Linked DNA regions of Homo sapiens: all the other regions are linked to region 3. Evidence: fine-mapped expression QTL. A gene starts in region 3. Each other region holds a variant in brackets. All regions are shown on one strand. Distances are between the middles of the regions.

Region 1 (4,098 bases), 73 kb after region 3:
TGAGAGGGGCCGTGGGCCTGGCTCTGCTGCTTCCTTAGGTGGAGTTTTCAGTGACTGCAGAACTCTGCACAGCTGCTTTTCATTCTCACGTCCGCCCCCGCCCAATCTTTGAAACTAACTTTGATTATTCCCTCCTGGGTAGCTCTGTCGGTGCTGTGTAAGTTTGGTTTTCAATTGGTTCTCAGCACCCAGGGGGTGACCACCTCAACCCCATCTCTACTATGCCAGGGGCTCATCCCGCTCACCCAGCCTCGCCACTGTTCTCTCGTGTGAGCCTCACACGGCAGGCCCGGTTCCATGCCCCTGCTTCCCCCTTGCTGGGAACGCTGTCCTCAGGCTCCCCTGCCTGCTCTTTCTTTAGCTTTCACCTTCTCCAGGGCCTTCTGTTCTGTCCAGCCCAGGGCAGTCCTCTGAACCACTCATGTACGAGCTCACAGTGTTTGGTGTTTCTAAGACCTGGCCTCTTAGAGTGTGTGTGAAGATGGTGTATGGGAGATCTTGGACCTCTAGGTGCAGGTCACAAAGAACACAGAGCTTGGTGCATGACATGTAGCAGGATCCAGCGGTTGAATGGATGGTGGTGTGTGACTCTGGGGAAAGAGATCCGTCCATACGCATTCAGCGTTTCCCTCCCCAGCTTCAGCACCTGCACCCTGGATCCCCTGGAGAGCACGATGCGCTCGCAGCATGCCGGCCTGGTGCTCGTGGATCGTGGCTGCCTAACGCTGCCTCTTTTTCAGATTCTCATTCAGATTGTGGATGCCTCGTCAGTCATCACTTGGGATTTCGACGTGTGCAAAGGGGACATTGTGTTTAACATCTATCACTCCAAGAGGTCGCCACAACCACCCAAAAAGGACTCCCTGGGAGCCCACAGCATCACCTCTCCGGGTGGGAACAATGTGCAGCTCATAGACAAAGTCTGGCAGCTGGGCCGCGACTACAGCATGGTGGAGTCGCCTCTGATCTGCAAAGAAGGAGAAAGCGTGCAGGTAAAATCACACACAGGTCAAATCGCGCATCCGTGACTCCACACGGCCAGGTGATTCTGTCTTGAGTAGACTCTTTGCTTCGCTCCTTGAGCAGCCCTGTGTAGCTTTTGAGGCCCTGCTTGTGGAGGAGCAGCTTGCCTGGAGGAGCAGGAAGCCAAGTGGGTCTCGTAGGAAGGAGTTCAGGCCTCGCAGTGGTTTTGGACAGAATCTGCGACTTTTCCCAAAAGCAGCCTGTGACAGGAAGGGAAGGCATCGCACGCACGGGCCCAGCTGGGCTTCATAGGATTTTTCCCCCCCGCCTCATTTCACCGGGTTGTGTTTGTCTTTTTCAAAGGAAAATCACCCTAAATAGAAGTAAGAGGGACAAGTACTTAGAGAACTATTAGCTCTCATTACCAAACCTTCTAATTTGTTTCAAATGCTTTCAGTTCCCTTTTCACATTGTGGCTGGTTATTTTGGGTGCCTGTGCTCACAGTAGCCTCGGGGCGGGGGCATTGCTTCTGGCCTTCATAATAGATGCATCGTTTTGCTGCCTTTACAGTTTTCAGGGGTAAGGCTTGTCAGTGTTTCAGTGGTCTTAGAGGCAGAGTAAAAGAATCCTTTGTCCATTTTAAAAACAATGAACAGCTAAGCTGTGTTAACCAGTCATGAATTTCGGAGAGAATGGAGAAGGAGCTTTCCACGGATTGACGGCTCACTTTAGGGTGACGTGCCTTCAGCCCCGAACATGCTGGATGATTGGCAGCATGTCAGAGAAAGTGAGGCCAGGTCCAGGGAAGCTGTGCTGAGCCCTCCCTCCAGCATGGGTGCCACCAGCCTGCCAGGCTCCTGCCTCCGTAGGTGGGGTGGGCTGGGCAGGCCTCGTGAGGGCCACGGACATGGAGCTTGTCCCTCCGGGCTTCCCAGCACCCGGGAGTGACCACACTCAGTAGAGGGAAGGACATTGTCAAACCTGCTGCTGAAGCAAAATAGCAGGTTCTGAATCCCATTGAGATAGTTTCCGTAGCTACATGAAATCCTAAAGACAGTCCCCTTGGCGCTTGTCAGGCCTGTGGTAGGCCAGGGGTCGGAAGCGAGTCGCCCTCAGCTGCCACTGCCCTACTTGTTCTAGGGTTCCCATGTGACCAGGTGGCCGGGCTTCTACATCCTGCAGTGGAAATTCCACAGCATGCCTGCGTGCGCCGCCAGCAGCCTTCCCCGGGTGGACGACGTGCTTGCGTCCCTGCAGGTCTCTTCGCACAAGTGTAAAGTGATGTACTACACCGAGGTGATCGGCTCGGAGGATTTCAGGTGCGGCCACCCTCGCCACAGCAGGTGCTGCGGACAGCTGGGCATGGTTGGAGGGAGCCTGCAGTCCCACGCCGTGTGCAGGATCAGCAGTGGCGGCGGGTGTCAGGAATGCTTGGAGGGCCAGGAGG[G/GA]AGTGGCTTTGGGGTCATTTGTTGGCACGGTGACTCCCTGCCTGTCTGCAGAGGGAGAGTGTCGGAGACAGAGCCGACTGACTGCCTTTGCTTTAGCTCACACTGCCGTCTGCGTGCAGGCTGTGGGAAGCCGGTCCCCCTGGTGGGTTACTCATGTCCATCCCCCGTTTGCAAGCACTGATGGGGATGAGAAGTGAGCAGAGAACAGGGTGGGCCACGAAGTCCAGCAGGCAGTGTGGGCCGGCGGGTGGTTGGCAGGGTGGTCCTCACGCCTCGCCCCTCCCTGTGCCATTACAGAGGTTCCATGACGAGCCTGGAGTCCAGCCACAGCGGCTTCTCCCAGCTGAGTGCCGCCACCACCTCCTCCAGCCAGTCCCACTCCAGCTCCATGATCTCCAGGTAGTGCCGCGCTGCCTGCACCTAGTGTGCAGAGGGGACGGCCGCCCCTCCTCGGACAGCCAGCTGCACCCGCCCACCCAGCGGCGACATTGTACAGACTCCTCTCACCTCTAGATAGCAAATAGCTCTCAGATGGTAAACGTAGTCGTTTGATCCCAAAACTACCTTGGCAGGTAGTTTTAACTCTGATCCTAACTTAACTCAATAGCCATAGATTTTGTATACGTTGTGCACAAAATCCAACCAGAGCGCAAGGGCTCTCTTGAAAGAAAAGTAGTTTCTGTACCAATTAAAGGATTGACGTGGTCTCAGATATTGATGCAAAAAATTTTTCCAACGAACTCCGCATTGTCCATTAGTGAATGAATTCCTGTGACATCCTCCAGAGATGGCCCCTCCTCACCTGGGACGGAAGCTGCCAGCTCGCTTCCCCCAAGCTGCCTCATGGCCCGCACGCCGCCTCACGGCCCCCATGCTTCCCGCCAGTCAAGATGGTCTGTGGACTTAGGGCCAGCCCTTGAGGTCCTTATCCTCTGAGGATTCAGAGGTTGCCTGCGGAGTACCTTGTCCCAGGGCCAGACACACCCACACCACCCACTGTCCTGCAGTGGGGCCGGGGGCTCAGGAGGGGCTCTCAGGGACTCCTGGTGACTCCAGGAAAATGCTGCCATCGTTAAACATTACTTTCTCTTTCCTCCTTTTCAAATCTTTTTGATACTTTTTAGAGCAGGATTTTTCTGTATGTGAACTTGGGTGGGGGGGTTCTTCCCGTTTCCTTCCGTGCGTCGCCCCTCTCACCTGCAGTCAGCTCCCAGCCCAGTGTAGGCCATCTCCTCTGTGCCCTCTGGTGGCTCATTGTCCTCAGAGCCCAGACAGTTCCAGCCACTAGGAGGCCGTCTTGGAACCAGCAAGTCGCATTTGCCACTTGACACTGTCCATGGGGTTTTATTAGTAGCTAAGCAGCAGCTCTCGCATCCACTTCAGGGTGGCGTGTGGCATGTAGGAGTCCTGCTTCTTTGTACATGGGAATTGTGGACTCATGCGTGTGTGTGTGTGCATGTGCTGTGTGTGTGCATGTGTGCATGACGGTGGGGGTGCTGGGGGGACGGGGTGAGTGGAAACTTAGTTTGAGTAATGAAGGAATCTTCACAGAAGCAAATCAGAATATGGGATTTGTTTGCCTTTTACATTTTGTTTAATTCCTGATTTTAAAGCCTGCTCTATCTGGTACAGGCCCTTATTTTTTCAGCTTTTTATGGGAAAAGCAGGTTATTTGAGAATCTGTCCA
Region 2 (4,098 bases), 25 kb after region 3:
ATTGACGTAGCTCCTGCCGCTGTGCTTGGTCTGGAGCTTGCAGTGGCAACTGAGCCCCTTGAGTTCTGCTCTCAGCGAGTATAGAGTCTGTGAAAATCGATGATACGAATTGGACTTACCCTGTCACACCCAACTAAACTGGAGTCGAGGGACCAGGGGAGAAGAAAAGCTGGGACACAGAGCGTCTGCCCCGGGATTATCTTGAAGGCCAGCTGCCAAAGTGACCTGCTGTAACTTTAAGACCAGTGTTAACTCCTTGCTGCTGAAATGAATTACTGTGACTCTAAGACTGGTTCAGTCAGAGCTTGCCAGCTCCCAAAAACTTCACTAGTACCAATGAGTTTTCAAAACAGTATGTCACCTTTCTTTCTTTTCTTTCTTTTTCTCCTCCTCTTCCCTCCTCTTTGGTTTTATACTTTAGCTATGAAGGCCATTTACCAGAGTCAAACTTGTTGTTAACAAGCAGAATTTTTAAGTTCATTCAGAGAGTCCCTCAGACTTTTCTGAGCCTGTTCACTTGCAGAGAGCAGACGCTGTCACCATGTTCTTCGTGTCATGCATTCACATGGATATTCAGTCTTCATATGCTGTCAAGTTTCTTTAAGATCAAAGGAGCGGCTCGCAGCGGGGCCACATAGATGATGACTTTTCTCTTTCTCATAAAACCCCCAGCCTTCCGTTTTTTCTTCGCACATACCGAAGAGCACCTGGTCTTTCTCTATGCCCCAAGTTGCAATTCTCTTTTCCCAAATGAAACTGTTTTAGGGATTCAGCTTTATATTTTTATTTGACCTTGACAAGCCCAGGGTGAAGATGATACTGCTTGGCCTGGAGAGGAGCCTGGGCTCCTGGGTGGCAGCCAGGGATCCTGCCACTGAACCGCAATTTGCAAAATACTTAAAGAACATATAACAGGTCTAAGAACAACATTTAGAGAGTGCTTGTGTGGCAATATCTTGTTTATTGCCCACACTTACTTTGTGGGTAGGCTCTTTCATCCCACTTTACAACTGAGGAAACAGGTTGAAATTGGTTACTAAGTGATTGCCCTGACCTGGCTGCCTCGCCTGCTGACAGCGGTGTGGGCTGACCCGGTACCGTGCCCCCGAGCAGGCAGAGCGCCTGTGCCCACCTGGAGGCCATCAGCCCACGGCGCTCAGGCACTTGGCTTTCATAATTCCCAACAGGGCCAGTTTGCAGTCTTTGCTTTAAAAGACCTCTCTGGGAGTCACTCTGAACCAATTCTGGTTTGAGGGAGGACTGCCCAATTTGGTCAATTAAACTCAATTTTTTGAAAAACCTCCCAATTTCCCCCCACCTCTTTTCCCTTTTGCTCTGTCTGGTGTGATCCGTCTCCCTGCTGGGCAGTAACCCTTTTTCCCAGCGCTCCCCCTTTGTTGGTGGCTTTCCTTCTGTTTGCTTGGACAGGAGGCCTTTGCTTCCAGGTTGTCCAGCTGGGATTCAAATCAAGGTCCATTGACACAAGAGCCCAGGCTCTAATTTGCTCTGCCATATGCCTCCCCGGTTTGTGTCTTAGTCCTAGAATGACAGTGCTGGAGGAGTGGAGGGAAAGGACACTTGGATAGCTGAGTTGCAGACATGATAATTGGGTGGGTGCGGGTGAGGGTGGTGGTGATGCGGAGTGGGAGGAAGTTGCTAGGAAAGCTGAGCTTAAAATAGCTGAAGGCCATAGATACTGGTACAGTGTGGAGTCTGGCAGATAATTGTGTGGCAGAGAAGGCTTTTGTCCTGAGAATAGTAGATGACCTCCCAGAACTGTGGGAACAACAGTCTCATGTTTACATTTATTCAGGCCACAATGGAGCTGAGCAATTCGCTTCCTGACATGAATTCTTTCTCTTCCAAGTAGATCGTGTTTCCTTATTCTGTGGAAAACGTTAATGCCATTAGAAGCCAGATTGAGGGCTACCTGTAACCGGAAACCTCTGCAGAGAACATCCTGTTACTCAGTACCCCTTTTTCTTCATTTATTTTATG[A/T]AAGTTCCCTTTCCACTTGACTGATATTTATCTTCAGGGCCATATTTTCTCCTTCTGTCAACCGAATATAGTATACGTAGCTAATCAATGAATTAGATAACTAAATCCATATATTTCCTCTTCTTCTGTGAACCCCGAATATCTGAGACAGGTCTTAGTTAATTTAGAAAGTTTATTTTGCCAGGATTGAGGACGTGCCTGTGACACAGCCTCAGGAGGTGCTGACAACATGTGCTCAAGGTGGTCAGGGCACAGCTTGGTTTTACTTATTGTAGGGAGACAGGAGACATCAGTCAGTATATGTAAGATGTACATTGGTGCTGTCCAGAAAGGCGGGACAACTCGAAGCAGGGAGGGGGTCTCCAGGTCGCAGGTGGGTGAGAGAGGCAGCCAGAAGCATTTTTCTCAGTGAGTAGAGGGGTGACTTTGAGTGGAATGGGAGGCAGATTTGCCTCCCAGTTTGACTTTTCCTTTTAGCTGAGTGATTTTGGGGCCCCAAGATTGATTTTCCTTTCACAATTTATATGATAAGGGGAGTGTTTTATTCCCAGTGCCTGAACTGAAGTATGATCATTTTTTTTGCCATTATCTTCCTTTGGCCTTTTCTTTTCTCTGTAGAAGGCAGGAGACCTAATATGCTCCTATTTATACCTAGTTCCTTTTTTTAGTCGGCTAATTATTTACTTAAAATAACTGGTTCCTAGCAAAGTCTCATGAGATTTACATCTTGTAATTTTAGGGTCATGAGTGAGATAATTATTTTAGTTTGGTGAACACATGGATTTTATTTGGTGCATTTCCAAAGTTTAGTAGAAAAGATAAATGTCAAATGAAAATGTTTAGTGTTTTAAACTGTTTGCATTCAGAAGGTCCCCCTCCTCATCTTGTGCATAGCTCAGCTGGTTCCTGGACTGTGGGCCTGACAGCGGCTTTACTTCATTGCCAATAGTGTCTTCCTCCTTGAGAGGTTCATGTGTTGCACAGAACAGTAGCCACACTTATTGAGTATTGTACTTATTCTTTGTTTTTGAGATGAGATCTTGCTATGTTGCCCAGGCTGCTGTCGAACTCCTGGGCTCAAGTGATCCTCCCACCTTGGCCTCTCAAATTGCTGGGATTACAGGCCTGAGCCATCATGCTTGGCCCCCTACTTATTCTGTGTCAGGGCCTGCCAAACATTTTATGTTTTCTTATTTAATCTTTCAACAATGCTGCAAGTTGAAGATGATGAAGAAATTGAAGCTTAATGAAATTAAATAGCCTCCCCAAGGACCACTTTTAATGGTGGAACTGGGATTTGAAGCCAGATCTGCCTCTTCTAAAGCCTGTGCTCTGAAATAGAATGGTAACTGGAGTGGGGCAGACCTGGGTTCATATCCTGGGTTCAAATTCTCTCAGCCTCTGTTTTCTCATTTTAAAATGGGAGAAACACTTATGTCATGGAAAGATGAGACCTATTAAGGGCCGGGTGCAGTGGCTTATGGCTGTAATCCCAGCACTTTGGGAGGCTGAGGCAGGTGGATCACTTGAGGTCAGGAGTTCAAGACCAGCCTTGCCAACATGGTAAACACCTGTCTCTACTAAAAATAAAAAATTAGCCAGGCTGGGTGGCGCACACCTGTAGTCCCAGCTACTTCAGAGGCTGAGGCAGGAGAATGGCTTGAACCTGGGAGGTGGAGGTTGCAGTGAGTGAAGATCGTGCCATTGCACTCCAGCCTGGGTGACAGAGCAAGACTCAGTCTCAAAAACAAAAAACAAGAAAAAAACAAAAATAAATAAAGATTGTACCTATTAAATGCAGTAATCTTTGGGAAGCTGATTAGGGTGCATGCGTACTAGGCTCTCCATATATACATGTTGGTTTGATCATCCCTCTGATGTGTTTCTCCCCAGATGAAAGCTCTTCATGGGTAGGACCCTTGTCTTGTGTTCATGTGTCCTCAGCCCTGTGCCTGTTGGAGAAGGGAGTGAATGTTGAATAAGTAATGTTAGAAATTTTTCTAGGTTCTTAAAAGAAGCTTGTTTGTCTTTCTGTTTTCTTTTCTTTTTCCTTTTTTTTTTTTTTTTTTTGAGACAGTTTCCCAGGCCAGAGGGCAGTGG
Region 3 (4,098 bases):
ACCGGCCTGACCAACATGGTGAAAGCCCGTCTCTACTAAAAATAAAAAAATTAGCTGGGCACTCGCCTGTAATCCCAGCTACTCGGGAGGCTGAGGCAGGAGGGCAGGAGAATCACTTGAACCCAGGAGGTGGAGGTTGCAGTGAGCCAAGATCGTGCCACTGCACTCCAGCCTGGGCAACAGAGTAAGACTCCATCTCAAAACAAACAAACAAACAAAAAAACAAAAAAAACCTAAGGAAAAAAATAGCAAAAAGTAGCCAGGCGTGGTGGCACATGCCTGTAGTCACAGCTACTCAGAAGGCTGAGGTGGGAGGTTCACTTGAGGCCAGGTGATGATGCTGCAGACGGCTATGATTATGCCACTGCCCTCAAGCCTGGGGAACAGAGTGAGACTGTTTCAAGAAAAAAAAAATGGAAATAAAGTTTTTTGTGATTGGTTGATGTCTCAAGTCTGTTTTTTCTTCAAAATGTTTAACTGAAGTATAATATACATATAAAAGCTTGCAAATCATAAATGAATGTATGGCTCAACAAATTTCCCAATCTCTTTTAATCTATAGATTGACCATTCCCCTCTTTTTTTCCTTTGGAATTTGATAAAGAATATATTTGTCTTGTACCGTTTCCCACAGTCTGTACTTTGCCAATTGTTTTTCATGGTGTCATTTAGCATGTTCCTCTATTCTGTATTTCCTGTAAACTGGTGGTTGCATCTAGAAGTTCAGCAGGTCAGGTGAATTTTTTTTTTTTTTTTTTTTTTTGACACGGAGTCTTGCTGGAGTCCAGCCCAGGCTGGAGTGCAGGGCAGGTGGCGTGATCTTGCCTCACTGCAACCTCTGCCCAGGTTCAAGTGATTCTCCTGCCTCAGCCTCCCAAGTAGCTGGGATTACAGGCATCTGGCACCACACCCGGCTACTTTTTGTATTTTTAGTGGAGACGAGGTCTCACCGTGTTGACCAGGATGGTCTCAAACTCCTGACCTCAGGTGATCCACCCACCTAGGTCTCCCAGACTGTTGGGATTACAGGCGTGAGCCACCGCAACGGCGTTAAAGCGTCTTTTGAAGGTGGATGTGATTTTTTTTTTTTTTTTTGGGACGGAGTCTCGCTCTGTCGACCAGGCTGGGGTGCAGTGGCGCGATCTCGGCTCACTGCAAGCTCTGCCTCCAGGGTTCACGCCATTCTCCTGCCTCAGACTCCCAAGTAGCTGGGACTACAGGCGCCCGCCACCACGCCCGGCTAATCTGTTGTATTTTTAGTAGAGACAGGGATTTCACCGTGTTAGCCAGGATGGTCTCGATCTCCTGACCTCGTGATCCGCCCACCTCGGCCTCCCAAAGTGCTGAGATTACAGGCGTGAGCCACCGCGCCCGGCCGGTGGATGTGATTTCTACAAACAAGCAAAAGCCAGTCAGACTGAATGTAGTGAATAATGTAGGTGACCCAGCTGGAAGATGATGGTTTGACGTGGAACACAAGGGGTGATGAGGCCATGAATGATTTGCTTGTGTGTCTGGTAAACTGGCTTTGATGGAAATTCCTAAACAGGTCCAAAAACGTTCTGTCCAATGGCAGCATGAAATGTACAGCCACTCAGGGTGACTAATGTGAACGGAACAACAGTGACTTTGACAGTGAAATTGCATGTTGGTTATAAAACCAGCTTTGCTGTGTGGGTGGGCATGCGAGGTGCCCCTTTCTAGTCATGAGCTCCTCTTAAGGACCCCAAAATGTCTCAGTGGTACCGGATTGAAAATTGGGGCTGGACGGTGCTCTCCTGCTGAAATTCGGGAGCTACTTAGCAGCCCCACCTTGGCACCCTCGTTTCCGAGGGGCAGGCCCTGGGCGCGCGTCTCAGTTTCAAGCCCGCGGCCCGACACTAGAGCCGTCTGGATGTGTTGACAAGGATGCCGCTGGGCTCCACCCGGGCTCACCCGGGCCCTCCCGAGCCCTGGGCCGCGCAGCACCGGCGTCCGCCTCCTCCCCATTACTCGGCGAGAATGCGGTCGGGGCACTGGCGCGAGCAGCCTGGTGCTCCTGAACAGTCAACAAGAAATGAGGAAGCACGGGGGCAGCCGCCAGGGCGACCAGAGGCAGGCCTCAGAGCAGCAGCCATACGGGAGGGCCCCGGTGGTTTTGACCTCCCGCAAACTTCCCTTTTCCCGCTCAGCCGAACCCCTCCCCTGCACGCCGGCAGCCCCTTGGGGCTTCACTCCGCCTCCGCCCGCTACTCGCGAAGCCCAGCCCGGCCCCGCCCCCAACAAGTGACGCAAAACTGGGAGGGGCCACGAGGACCTCGGGCACATCCAGCAGTGCGACGGGGCCGGCGCCTTCTCCGAGCTCCTCCCACGCTCGCGGGTCGGAGCTCGCGCCTGCGCAGTTCGGGCCCCGGGTGTCCTCCCCCCTCCCCTTTCTTAGCAACCATCGCCCGCTCCCGCCCCCGCTCCCTCGGCCGCGGCCGCGCACGCGCGCCCCTCCCGGCGCCCGGCCCCGCCCACCCCGTCACCCGTAACAACCACAAGTGCCGTCGCCGCGCCCCTTCCCCCTCCCGCCTCCCCGGCCCCCTCCCCGGAACCGGCGGTCGAGCTACGGTCGCGGAGCAGTGGAACCGAGACTGCCCCGCGGAGCCGCCGGTATGAGCGCCCCTCGCCACCCCGTGTCCCAGGCCCGGCCTTTCTGACAAGAGGTAGGCGCGTCGTCGCGGCGGGTCCGAGTGCGCCCTCGCCCCGGTCCCGGTCTCCGTGGAGTCCGGCGCCTCTCGGGCGGGCCCCCCGGAACTCCCGGCCGCCCGCTTGCTGAGCCTGTCCCTCCCCAGCCCCGGCTGCCATCGGCCCGGCACCCGAAACGGGCCGTGCCCCCGCCCCCCTGCTCGCCCTCCGCCCCCCTGCTCGCCCCTCGCCGCCCCTCGCCCCCCTCCCCCGCCCCCACCCCCACCTCGCCAGGCTTCCAGTTCCCGGGAGCCGCTTTTTGCTGAGAGCGGAGTTTCGGGTCCGGAGCCAGTGCCCGCCCCTCTCTCCCGTCGGTCGGGGCTTTGGCCCCGTGGGGCTCAGCCGCGCGGGACCCCTGCTGAGCAGCCCCGGGCGCCGGCCGCCCCTCGAGCCTGCTCGGGATGCGTTCAGTGGGTCTGGCCTTTGGCTCCTGTTTAAACAGCGATTGTCATGCAATGGAGGCCGTCCGGCTCCTGGATGCCACTTGGTCGTTGTCACTCCGGATGCCCGCGTAGGGCGTTTATCTGGACCAGAGCATCGGCAGCTGAGACCTGGCTGTGGTTCACAAGCTCGTGAATTAGCAGGTTCTTAAGTGAGTGTAGCCAGTTCTGCCAGGCGGTGGAATCCTGAATGGATGTTACCGTTTCTTAAACGAGCATTACGCTTTTTTGCTTCTTCCCCCAACTCTTGTTTGTACCCGGTTATCGTCCTCATATCTGGGAGAGTACCCTAAAATTAATATTCCCAATTAAATTTTTAAAAGATGATTGGATTCCCACTGTGCACCAACACTGTAAGGTTTGCAAAAGAAAAAGAACGTGGTCCCAGCACATCAGGATGTGTCAGTCGCATAATCAAGATGAATATTAGAAAAGCTTCAAGTTGAGTTTGGAGAACTTGGGAGTTTGGCTCTCATTCTCATGGTTTTAGAGGTGGAAGTCTTTCAAGATCATCTCCCCGAAAACCTCATTTTACAGAGATGAAACTGAGTCCTAGGGAAGTCAAATGGCTTACTCGTGGTCACCCAGAGTCATTCCTTAGCCGTTTTCACACTGTCAGATGGCGATGTTTTCCACCATGACCTCTCCTCTGAGAGGTATGCCAGACATACCAGAGAAAGTTCCAAACCTGTTTAAACCTTAGTACTATAGATGGGAATTCTATACCAGGCGCCGTGACTCATGACTATAATCCTAGCACTTTGGGAGGCTGAAGTGGGCAGATCCCTTGAGCCCAGGAGTTTGAGACCAGCCTGGGCAACATGGGGAAACCTTCTACAAAAAATATATATGGTGGTGCGTGCCTGTGGTCCCAGCTACTTGGGAGGCTGAGGCAGGAGGATCACTTGAGCTTAGAAGGTGGAGGCTGCAGTGAGTGGAGATTGTGCCA

What was found. PIP is the estimated chance that this variant, and not a neighbour inherited with it, causes the effect.
Region 1: its variant is the best candidate, but not a certain one, in a credible set for the expression of SEC14L1 in whole blood (TOPMed, PIP 0.90).
Region 2: its variant is the best candidate, but not a certain one, in a credible set for the expression of SEC14L1 in whole blood (TOPMed, PIP 0.74).

The regions. Positions count from the first base shown.
Region 1 is chr17:77,211,210-77,215,307 of GRCh38, forward strand. SEC14L1 (SEC14 like lipid binding 1) reads left to right here. Exons shown (of 17, transcript NM_001143998.2): 15 at 741-992; 16 at 2,105-2,283; 17 at 2,709-4,098. The coding sequence ends at 2,814. Among named protein-coding and RNA genes, the nearest start is that of LACAT1, 41 kb to the right of the region's middle. RefSeq lists enhancers at 856-965, 1,306-1,355. The variant G/GA (reference allele first, on the strand shown) is at 2,412.
Region 2 is chr17:77,163,098-77,167,195 of GRCh38, forward strand. All of the region lies in intron 3 of SEC14L1 (SEC14 like lipid binding 1), which reads left to right. Among named protein-coding and RNA genes, the nearest start is that of SEC14L1, 24 kb to the left of the region's middle. RefSeq lists an enhancer at 258-759. The variant A/T (reference allele first, on the strand shown) is at 1,999.
Region 3 is chr17:77,138,421-77,142,518 of GRCh38, forward strand. It overlaps SEC14L1 (SEC14 like lipid binding 1), which reads left to right and starts at 2,549. Exons shown (of 17, transcript NM_001143998.2): 1 at 2,549-2,687. LOC105371901 (a long non-coding RNA gene) reads right to left here and starts at 3,019. Exons shown (of 5, transcript XR_934988.3): 1 at 2,936-3,019. RefSeq lists silencers at 1,833-2,042, 2,193-2,402, 2,413-2,862, 3,027-3,321.